2 separate regions of the Homo sapiens genome follow, and region 2 is linked to region 1. A link means that fine-mapping ties the variant in region 1 to the expression of a gene that starts in the linked region. Tissue or cell type: whole blood. Region 1 holds a variant in brackets; the other region holds the start of a gene. All regions are shown on one strand. Distances are from middle to middle.

The links. PIP is the estimated chance that this variant, and not a neighbour inherited with it, causes the effect.
Region 2: UBE2K starts here. The variant in region 1 is fine-mapped to the expression of UBE2K in whole blood (TOPMed, PIP above 0.99). The same link has a PIP of 0.9 or more in monocytes and tibial artery.

What each region holds. Positions count from the first base shown.
Region 1 is chr4:39,755,249-39,760,510 of GRCh38, forward strand. UBE2K (ubiquitin conjugating enzyme E2 K) reads left to right here. Exons shown (of 7, transcript NM_005339.5): 4 at 409-491. Among named protein-coding and RNA genes, the nearest start is that of UBE2K, 60 kb to the left of the region's middle. The variant A/C (reference allele first, on the strand shown) is at 3,121.
Region 2 is chr4:39,696,029-39,701,113 of GRCh38, forward strand. UBE2K (ubiquitin conjugating enzyme E2 K) reads left to right here and starts at 2,108. Exons shown (of 7, transcript NM_005339.5): 1 at 2,108-2,362. The coding sequence starts at 2,300. RefSeq lists an enhancer at 1,662-1,721 and a silencer at 1,802-2,091.

The DNA.
Region 1 (5,262 bases):
ACTTTTTTCCTCAAACCTATTCTGCACCCTGCCTCACATGAAGAAAAGTGCCATTTACTATTTATGTTTTTATTTTATGTACTATTTTATTTACCAAAATGGATTTTATTCTCTGTTGTATTCTCATAGCATCTACCATTATTCTAGGTAAATTGTAAGCTCCTAGTAATTGTTGGGTTTGTTTAAAGGCGGAACATTTATTAAAGAGTTTGAAAACAACATATGTTAGTGACAACATTCAGCTTACTGGATCCTTTGTCTTCTACACCCCTTCTTTCACCTAGGCAAAATGATGTAATAGATATAGGGACCTTTCTTTTTTTAGTTTGAAGATTTCATTTTCTTGTAGTTCTACTTAAACTGTTTTATTTCTGTTACTGAAAAACTCAAGTGTGCTTTATATTCTAGGTCCGGTTTATCACTAAAATATGGCATCCTAATATTAGTTCCGTCACAGGGGCTATTTGTTTGGATATCCTGAAAGATCAATGGTAAGAGATTTTGAATTCACCTTCTCTCCTTCTCATATGAATACCAAGACTGTAAGAGTGTTAAATGTGTAATTGCCTCAAAACATATATTATACTTTATCTTGTTTGGGCAGTAACTTTAAAAGTCTCTTAAGTGCATAACTGAAAATGCATTATAATTGAGATCACAATCCATATTTAAATAGAAACTTGTTAGATAATGTTAGATGCTAGCTTTACACTTTGAAAAGCCTTGGATTTCATTTGTTATTTTGGTAAATTTGATTCTTTGCTATCTTAAGAAGATATTTGTGAAAGACTAAAAAAGTAGAAAGTAAGTATTGAAGTAGTCATATCCCCCTTAGATGGAATGTAAGTTACAAAATTGTTGCAGGTTGTGTTAATTGAGCACAGTTAAGATTTTGGTTTATGAATTCTAACAAGGAGCACCTTTGTAGGTGATGTCTTCATTTGGATAGCGGTATTGTGCTTTCACTTTTTTTGTCTGATTTGCTCTGCACAGCATTAAATGTTTTAAGAGTTCCTACTCTGGAGCCACCAGGTTCACATCTTGGCTCTCCAGTTTACCAAGCTGCATGGTTATGAGCAAATTACCTAAAGTCTGTGTGCCTTAGTGTCCTCATCTGCAAAATGGGTTGATACCCACTTCATAGAGCTCAGAGGATTAAATAAGTTACTTTATGTAATTCCCTTAGAATAGAGCTTTGCTTTTGTTTTTGTTTGTTTGTTTTGAGACAGGGTCTTGCCCTGTTGCCCAGGCTGGAGTGCAGTGGCGCAATCACAGCTCACTGCAGCCTTGACCTCTAAAGCCCAAGTAGTCCTACCACCTCAGCCTCCCAAGTAGCTGGGAATACAGGCGCATACCACCACACCTGGCTAATGTTTGTATTTTTTTTAGAGACAGGGTTCCTGTTGCCCAGGCTGGAAGCTTTGTGTAGTCTGACAATGATAAAGATGATAGTTAATTATTTAGCACATGATTTTATAGATGGAAAAACTAAGACCAAAGGTATGAAAAGTAATTGGAGTGGGAGAAAACCATAAAACTAGAAAAAATCAATTAAGTGAGTGTCTATTATGACCTTTCCTTCTGATTTTACTCTTTTACAAGAGAAGGTATAACAGAACAAAATAGAACAGCAGTTGGTAAGAAGACTTGGAGCCAAAACTGTGTTTAATGGGCCCAGCCTGGCTGCCTAATCTTCTAAAGATTATATATTATTTTTGGTACTAGAATTTTTAAGCTATGTTTTTTTGGGTGTTTTTTTTTTGTTTTTTGTTTTTTGTTTTTTGTTTTTTTTTTGAGACAGAGTTTCACTCTTGTCACCCAGGCTGGAGTGCAGTGGCACGATCTTGGCTCACTGCAACCTCTGCCTACCGGGTTCAAGCGATTCTCCTGCCTTAGCCTCCCGAGTAGCTGGGACTACAGGCGTGCGCCATCATGCCCAGCTAATTTTTGTATTTTTAGTAGAGATGAGGTTTCACCATGTTGGCCAGGCTGGTCTCAAACTCCTGAGCTCAGGTGATCCACCTGCCTCAGCCTCCCAAAGTGTTGGGATTACAGGCATGAGCCACCACACCCGGCCTAAGCTATGTGATTGATTTGTTAAGAAAGGGGAGAAAAAAAGGTACCTGAAAGAAAATCAAATAGGAATGACAGTATTTAGTGTATGGCCAGTGGTTTACTTAGTAACTGGATGAACAGACTAGAGTTACAGGTTTTGTTTTGTTTTTTTTTTCTATTCCAGTAGTATATCTGAGTAAATCCTGTCCCTCAGTAGATCATCTCTTGGGATCTGGTTTCTTGATCTGTATTTCAATATATTCTATATTCCATATAGATCAAGACTTTCTAACATAAAGCAGTGTGGAATAGACTTACTTTTTATCTTCTCTGTTACTCTTTTGATTTGTGACTTTTACCAATTTATTGAACTTCTTAAGTGTCAGTGTTTTTAATCCATTAGGTTATCGCCAAGGCCTCTAAAAGCTCTAAGATTCAGTGATATGAATACATATTTGCAGTATTAGAGACATTGTACTGTTTTCACTTGGCTTCTAGGACATTAGATTTTCTATTCTCCCTTTCCTATGCTCACTCCCAGATTCCTTAACCAGTTCCTTGCATCTTTGTGTATTAGAATGCCTCAGGGATAAGTCTTGGATTTCTGCTCCTTTCTAGCTGCACTCACTTCCTTGGTAAGCTCATCTGATTTCATCATAACTTCACCTTTACATACTGCAAACTCACAAATTATCTTCCCTGAACTTGAGACTCCTATCCTGCTGCCTGCTTATCATCTTTACTTGACTATATAACGAACATATCAAACATAAACTGAACTGATAGTCTCCTAACCTGAAACCTGCTTCTATAGTCTTCCCCAACTAAGTTATTGGCAAATACGTCCTTGCATTTTCTCAGGCCAAAATCACATCATGATCCTTGGCATTTCTTTCTCTGGTACCCCATGCCCTGTCTGCAGATCTATTGGCAAAACCTCCCAACATCTTAACAGCAGCTTTACTACCACACTTTTCCAAACGGATTACCTCTAGCCTGCATGATTGCATTAGTCTGCCTCCCTGCTTCTGGCTTTTACCTACTCAGGCTATTCCCAGCACCCAG[A/C]ATGACAACTTTGAAAACAAAGCTTGCCGCCACGTGCAGTGGCTCATGCCTGTAATTCCAACGCTTTAGAAGGCGGAAGTGGGCAGATCGCTTGAGGTCAGAAGTTTGAGACCAGCCTGGCCAACATGGTGAAACCCCATCTCTACCAAAAATAAATAAATTAGCTGGGCATGGTGGTGCATACCTGTAATCCCAGCTACTTGGGAGGCTGAGGCAGGAGAATCGCTTGAACCTGGGAGGCGGAAGTTGCAGTTAGCAGAGATCATGCCATTGCACTCTAGCCTGGGCGACGGAGTGAGACCCCATCTCAAAAATAAAAAAAAAAAAGAAAGAAAAAGTTTGCAGATGAAAACTTCCCATTGACTTCTCTTTTTGCCCAGAGTTAAGCCAACAGTACTATTACTTGTAATTATCTTCCTATATAGCTAGTTGAAAGATTATGGTGTGTATATATAGAGAGAGAAGTTGAATTTTTATACCAAAACATTTTCTCCTAATATGATGTGCAGGAACAAAACATTTTTTACATCAACTATTCCCTTTTCCTAAGGCAGGTGAATAATCTTGTTTTTTATCTGTACAATTGAAATATTAGAATATACCAAAGACACATTAGATAAAATAGGTGAGACTAGATATTCATGAAGTCATTACTTTATTCCCAGAGCTTTACTGAGGTATAATTGACATTTAGTGCATATCCATATTTAAATGTGGATGTTTAGGTTTCAGAACTGGAATTTGATAGAGAAAAATACAGAGTCTTAATCATAGGAAAAATGAATTACATAAATAATTTTCAGCAGGCATACTAGAAAATAATTGGTTAATCTTGGTCTTTTATTAATGCATCTAGGGGTGATGATATACCTTTATTAATATTTAACTTATTTTAGTATATTTGTTTATTATTATTATTTTTTTTTGAGGCAAAGTCTCGCTCTGTCACCCAGGCTGGAGTGCAATGGTGCCATCTCTGCTCACTGCAACCTCCGCCTCCCGGGCTCAAGCAGTTCTCCTGCCTCGGCCTCCTAAGTATCTGGGATTACATTACAGGCATGTGCCACCACGCCCAGCTAATTTTTTTCTATTTTTAGTAGAGACAGGGTTCCACCGTGTTGGCCAGGCTGGTCTCAAACTCCTGACCTCAGGTGATCCACTGGCCTCGGCCTCCCAGAGTGCTGCAATGACAGGCGTGAGCCACTGTGCCCGGCCCCTGGTTTATTTCTTAATTCCACAACTTGTGCTGTGTGGAAACTATTTTCTAATGTTTTCCACTGACACTTACTATGACTAATGGTGTCTACTTACCTGGGGAAGAAAATGGCAACACATAAAAATTTCACTCAGTGACGCTGCCCTTCTAAAAGACACAAACAGGCACAGAATATCTGCCTGGTCGATAAGGTATGCTCAGCATCATTACTCATCAGGGAAATGCAAATGAAAATCACAATAAGATAACTACTACATGCCTGTAAACACAAATACCTCATGCATTGCTGGTAAGAATGTGGCTTAACCAGGCAGGGCACGGTGGCTCATGCCTGTTATCCCAACACTTTGGGAGGCCAAGGTAGGTGGATTGCTTGAGGTCAGGAGTTCAAGACCAGCCTGGCCAACATGGTGAAACCCCATCTCTACTAAAAATACAAAAATTAGCCAGGCGTGGGTGGTGGGCACCTGTAATCCCAGCTACTCGTGGGGCTGAGACAGGAGAATCTCTTGAACCTGGGAGGCAGAGGTTGCAGTGAGCCGACATCGCGCCACTGCACTCCAGCCTGGGTGACAGAGCGAGACTCTGTCACAAAAAAAAAAAAAAAACAGAAAAAAAAAAAAAAACAAATAATGTGGTTTAACCACTTAAAGCCAGTAATATCTACCAAAGCTAAACATACACCTTCAGTATGCCCTATCAGCTTCATTCCTAGGTATATATCTAAAAGAAATTAGTGTCTATGCCTACTTTTTAAAAGACATGTATAAAAGAATATTTATGGCAGATTTATTAATAGCCCCAACGGGAAATAACTTAGATGTCTCATCAACAAGAAAATTGATACATTGTGATCACACACTGGAGCACTACATAAACAGTAAAAAAGAGCCTATCATTGACACAAACAACATGGATGAGACTCA
Region 2 (5,085 bases), 59 kb before region 1:
GAGAACTGCCATGGGAGAGAACTGGAATTTTAAAATCTCCTCTTGGTTCCTGGGGCGGGAGTTTAAGAAATTCTCTTTTGCCTTGTGCCCCCACTGATTCGCCTCCATTGGCTATTTCCATGTTTGCCACCACAATTTTAATTACTTTTGGTAAAACCATGTATTTGTGATATTTTTATAATAGATATTTTACTGATTGGCTAGGTGAAGAAAGTGCATGAAGTATAAACTTCTGAAATGACACCCTTATTACTTATTCCAAAATGTTCTATTCAAAATGCTTCTCAGTACCAAACCATTATTACTATGCACCTTAGAAACCACTTTCTTTTTTAAAAATTATTATCTTTAGAGACAGGATTTCACCATAGGGCCCAGGTTGGTCTCAAACTCCTGGGCTCAAGTGATCTGCTCCCCCTCGGCCTTCCAAAGTGCTGGGATTACAGGCGTGAGCCACCGCGCCCGACCAGAAACCACTTTCTTTTGTTTGTTTGTTTTTTGTTTTTTTTTGAGACGGAGTCTCGCTCCGTTGCCCAGACTGGAGTGCAGTGGCGCAATCTCGCTCGCTGCAAGCTCCGCCTCCCGGGTTCACGCCATTCTCCTGCCTCAGCCTCCCGAGTAGCTGGGACTACAGGCGCCCGCCACCACGCCCAGCTATTTTTTTTATATTTTTTTAGTAGAGACGGGGTTTCACCGTGTTAGCCAGGATGGTCTTGATCTCCTGACCTCGTGATCCGCCCGCCTCCGCCTCCCAAAGTGCTGGGATTACAGGCGTGAGCCACCGCACCTGGCCCAGAAACCACTTTCAAACTTACTTTCCACTTAAAATATTTTATACTTTTTGTTTTGTTTTGTTTTGTTTGAGACAGAATCTTGCACTGTGGCCCAGGCTGGAGTGCAGTGGCGCGATCTCGCTCACTGCAACCTCCGACCCCCAGGTTCAAGCGATGTTCCTGCCTCAGCCTCCAGAATAGCTGGGATTACAGGTGCCTGCCACCACACCTGGCTGATTTTTGTATTTTTAGTAGAGATGGGGTTTCACCATGTTGGCCAGACTGGTCTCGGACTCCTGACCTCAAGCGATCCGCCGCGCCAGCAAAAACGTTTTAGTCTTATCTGTACTCATTTACTCATTCAATATTTATTGAGTGCCTACTATCACCAGGCACCTTTGAGGCCTAGGTTTACAGAAATAAGGCTCCCCCTCCCCCACCCCGAGTCCCCTGAAGGGTACTGTAATTGTTTCCATTTCTCCAATTTTCACTTTAATATATGTGAATTTTCACATGCTTCATTCAGTTCAGTGGTTCTCATAATGTGGTCCCGGAACCAGCACCAACAGCAGCAGCAACTGGGAGACTTGTTAGAAGCGCAGTCTTAGGCCCACCCTACACTCTAGGGATGGGCATAGGAGTGTGTGTGTGTGTGTGTGTGTGTGTGTGTGAGAGAGAGAGAGAGAGAGAGAGAGAGATTGTGTGTGTGTGTCAAGCTCGGTATTAAATAGGTCAAAGAGCAACATCTGGCTTCTAAACCCACCCTCAGGCCTCTCCACCGAGTACCTGTCTCAAACCCAATCTGATCCAACAATAACCAGCCTTAATTCAATAATCTGTGCTACCTGAGATGATGGGAATAATCGTGGTACTATAAATGTTGCAGAACAAAAACGACTGCAGTAGATTTTCTGGGGCTACACCAACTGAAAATGGGCCGGACCGAGATCCGGGAGAGCGTTTTCCTGCGCTAGACACGGCGTTCAGCCTCCGGGTTCCGGGTCTAGCTGAGTCAGGGCGGCGTTCCAGCCGAGTGCGGCGTCGGAAACCCGTTCGGTTGCGCCCGAACCTTCGGTCAGAGGCCAGCGCTGGAAGCCCAGACCACAGCACCCGGGTTTAAACAGGAGCGGAGGCGCCGGGAAGGGCCGGGGGGGCCGGCTAGGGCCGGCCAGCTTGGAAGCCGCACCCTCGCGGCCCCAGACGCCGGCAGGGCGGAGCCACGCGGCCGCAGCCCCAGCCGAGACGCGAGCTCGTGGCTCGGGCGTATGGGGGCTCCAACGGGAGCGGCTGCGCCGCCCGGCCGGGTCAACGTCGTGCGCATGCGCCGACCCGGCGCCATTTTGGTGGCCGGGCGCGGAGGTGATTCCACACTGAGGCGAGCGCGGCGGCCGGGGTGGTAGTGGCAGTGTTCGTGTGCTCAGGTCTGAATCGCCGAGGGAGGAGGCGGTGGAGGAAGAGGTGGCGGCGGTGGCGGTGGTCGTAGCGGTGGCGGAGGAGGCGGGTACGAATCAGCTGCGGGCGGAGACATGGCCAACATCGCGGTGCAGCGAATCAAGCGGGAGTTCAAGGAGGTGCTGAAGAGCGAGGAGGTCAGAAATGAACTCCCGGATATCCCCCACCTCTGCCTGGGGCGGGAGGGTCCTCCCAGCTGCGACCCCGATATCCCCGGTAGTCCCTGGGTGGTCCTCCTTGCGGCCGCCCTTCTGCCTGTGAGGAAGCAGCAGTGTTCCCCTCCTCCTTCCGCCGCCTTCCCCTCCCCTCCCAGAGCGCTAGGATGGACGGTCTCGCGGGCGGGTGGTCTGGGGTGGAACATGGTTTGGGGAGGTGATGGACAGGGGGCAACTCCTCGGAGGGATGGAAGCTCACAAGAGAACCCGAGGCGGTGGCCGCAGCTGGAAATGTGGCTGTGGGGTGGGGAGGGAGCAGGCCGAGCCTGAGAAAACCCGGGAAGTGGGTTGGGGGAAGGGGAAAGGTGGTAACTGGATCCCAAGAGCAGTGCTGCTCGAAGGCCCACACTTTTGAGGGTATTCGGGGTTATTGCCTGTCAGGCCTTCACTGTTCTTTTCTTGGGGAAGGAGCAGTGAGTCCTTAGGTATTGATTAAAAAGGAAGGACATTCAGAGTTAGTCCTTCTTAGTTGGGTGTTAGGAGTCAAAGGGAGACATAATAGAATACTGTCTTATTTGGTGGCAGGGGTAAGGGAATTTTCACCTGAGTTAGCAAGTTAATTCCAAATAAGATAATTATCTCTTTTCCACTTAACCCCCAAATTCCTAGGCCTCATCTTTATTGACATCTCAATCTTTTGAGTGGGCAAAGGCAAGGTGTTTGGTGTATTAAAGACATGTAAATATTTTTAGTTAGGAAACAAATAATGGAATGTATGAGTAGCTTATTTCAAAATATTGTTTACAAGTTACAGATCAGAGAGACTGTCTTAAGACAGTGCCTCTGTGACTCGTGTTGTGCCACGAAACTTCATTATGATGTCCCTCATAGTTAACTTGATTCTTACTTTTGAAAAGCAGACCTATTAAAAATGTGAAATTTCACCAGATTAATACATTGTTTCATCTCCTTATTGAGATTTATCACGACTTAACAGATTTTCAAAAAAGTTGCCTCCCGTTGCTCTTAAGTCCTGCAGAATTTAGATACATTTGTACTACGTTTATTTATGTAAGATATTCACAGTGCTCTAGTAATTTGACTCAAAATTATGCAAGTATTAGTACAGTTTCTCATACCAAGATCAACAAGAATGCCAGATTGTCTTCCCCACATGAATTAAACAAAAAGTAATACAGAAAATGATTATTTTCAAGATTCACATACCATTATTGAATATATCATTGCTATTTGTGTTTTTCTTTTACAGTTAGTACTTTAATAGTGTCAATAATAATTTGTGAAATTCAGCATTCTAAGTATGTGATGAGTATACATGGAGAAAAAATTATTTAAAATTCAAAAATGACAACAGACTTATTGAAAGTAGTATATAAGTCATGGTCGGTTTTACAGAGCATGTGTATGAACTCTGACCTCTATGTTTGTTCATATGCCAAAACTCTGAATGGAAGGATGACTTTGTATTTTGTGGTACAATGCAGAAATAGAGTCATAAGTGTCTGTACTGATACAATGAAACAGCAATTTTAACTTATTTAATATGAAAATGTATTCCAGGTTAGTTGACATATATACTCCTAATGAAAGCAGTTGTTGTTGCCAACAACTGAAAACATTTCTTGTTTAATAAGGTTGTACAAGCCTGAAACTTAATAGACTTTTAATGCTTTATTTTCTGTTACTTACGGTAACAGAAACAGTAAGTTACTGCTCTGGTAATTAATGTGGTCTCTTTGCTTTTTATGAGCTGACTTTTCACCGTGGTATTCTTAGTACTAAGTTGAAGATTACCAGAAATACTTGTATTGCTCTCTAGTAATGCATATTAAAAAAACACTGCTCTTTATACGTAAGGGATGTTGAAGCCTTACTTCAGATAAGCATCAAAAGTGTTTCAGAAGAAGAAAACAGGAAATGCAAACAGACAGGTTTTTTGTTGTTTTTGTTGTTTGTTTGTTTTGTTTTGTTTTGTTTAGAACAGTACCTGTATAAATATGGAAGGAAACTTCTGGGAAAATAAGTTGGAAAGAACATTTAGGAAAGGGTCACATCATTTAATCTTGGAATAAATATAACCAATAAATAGCTTATTTTCACCAGTATTTTTTGATATTTTAGTAGCCCCAGTTCTATAAGTGTATTGTTATTTTCAACTCATTGAAGACTTGTAGTATAGTCCATGTGTTTCCTTTTTAAGGGTGTAAATACAGTCTTTTGAATGGCTGATCAAATAAATGTTTCATCATGTCACTTTTTTGGTAAATCAGCACTTTACCGAAGTTTATTTCATGTGTTTGTATGCTTGTGTTTACTAAGAACACTGGTTGATTTAAGGACTTTTTGGGGTGGCCTTATAAGAGCCTTTGTAAAGATAGCTGACGCTTACTGGATTCTGGTTATGAGAGATTATAAGTGGCCGTTCTTAGAGTGTGTTAAAATACAGCCAACAAGATAAATGTGAAAAAGCAAGGTGCAGAATAGTGTGGAAGAGGCCATTTGTGTCAAAAAGAAGGGCATGTGTGTATTTGCCTGTATGGGTAAAAGGTTTCATGAGAAATTGGTAAAATTGATTGCTTTCTGTGTAGAGAGTTGGGTGTCTGGGGTATAGATATTTTTTGAATTTTGTGTCATACAAATGTGATTTACTTAAAGGCATCATTTGGCCTCTTTCCCTTAAGACA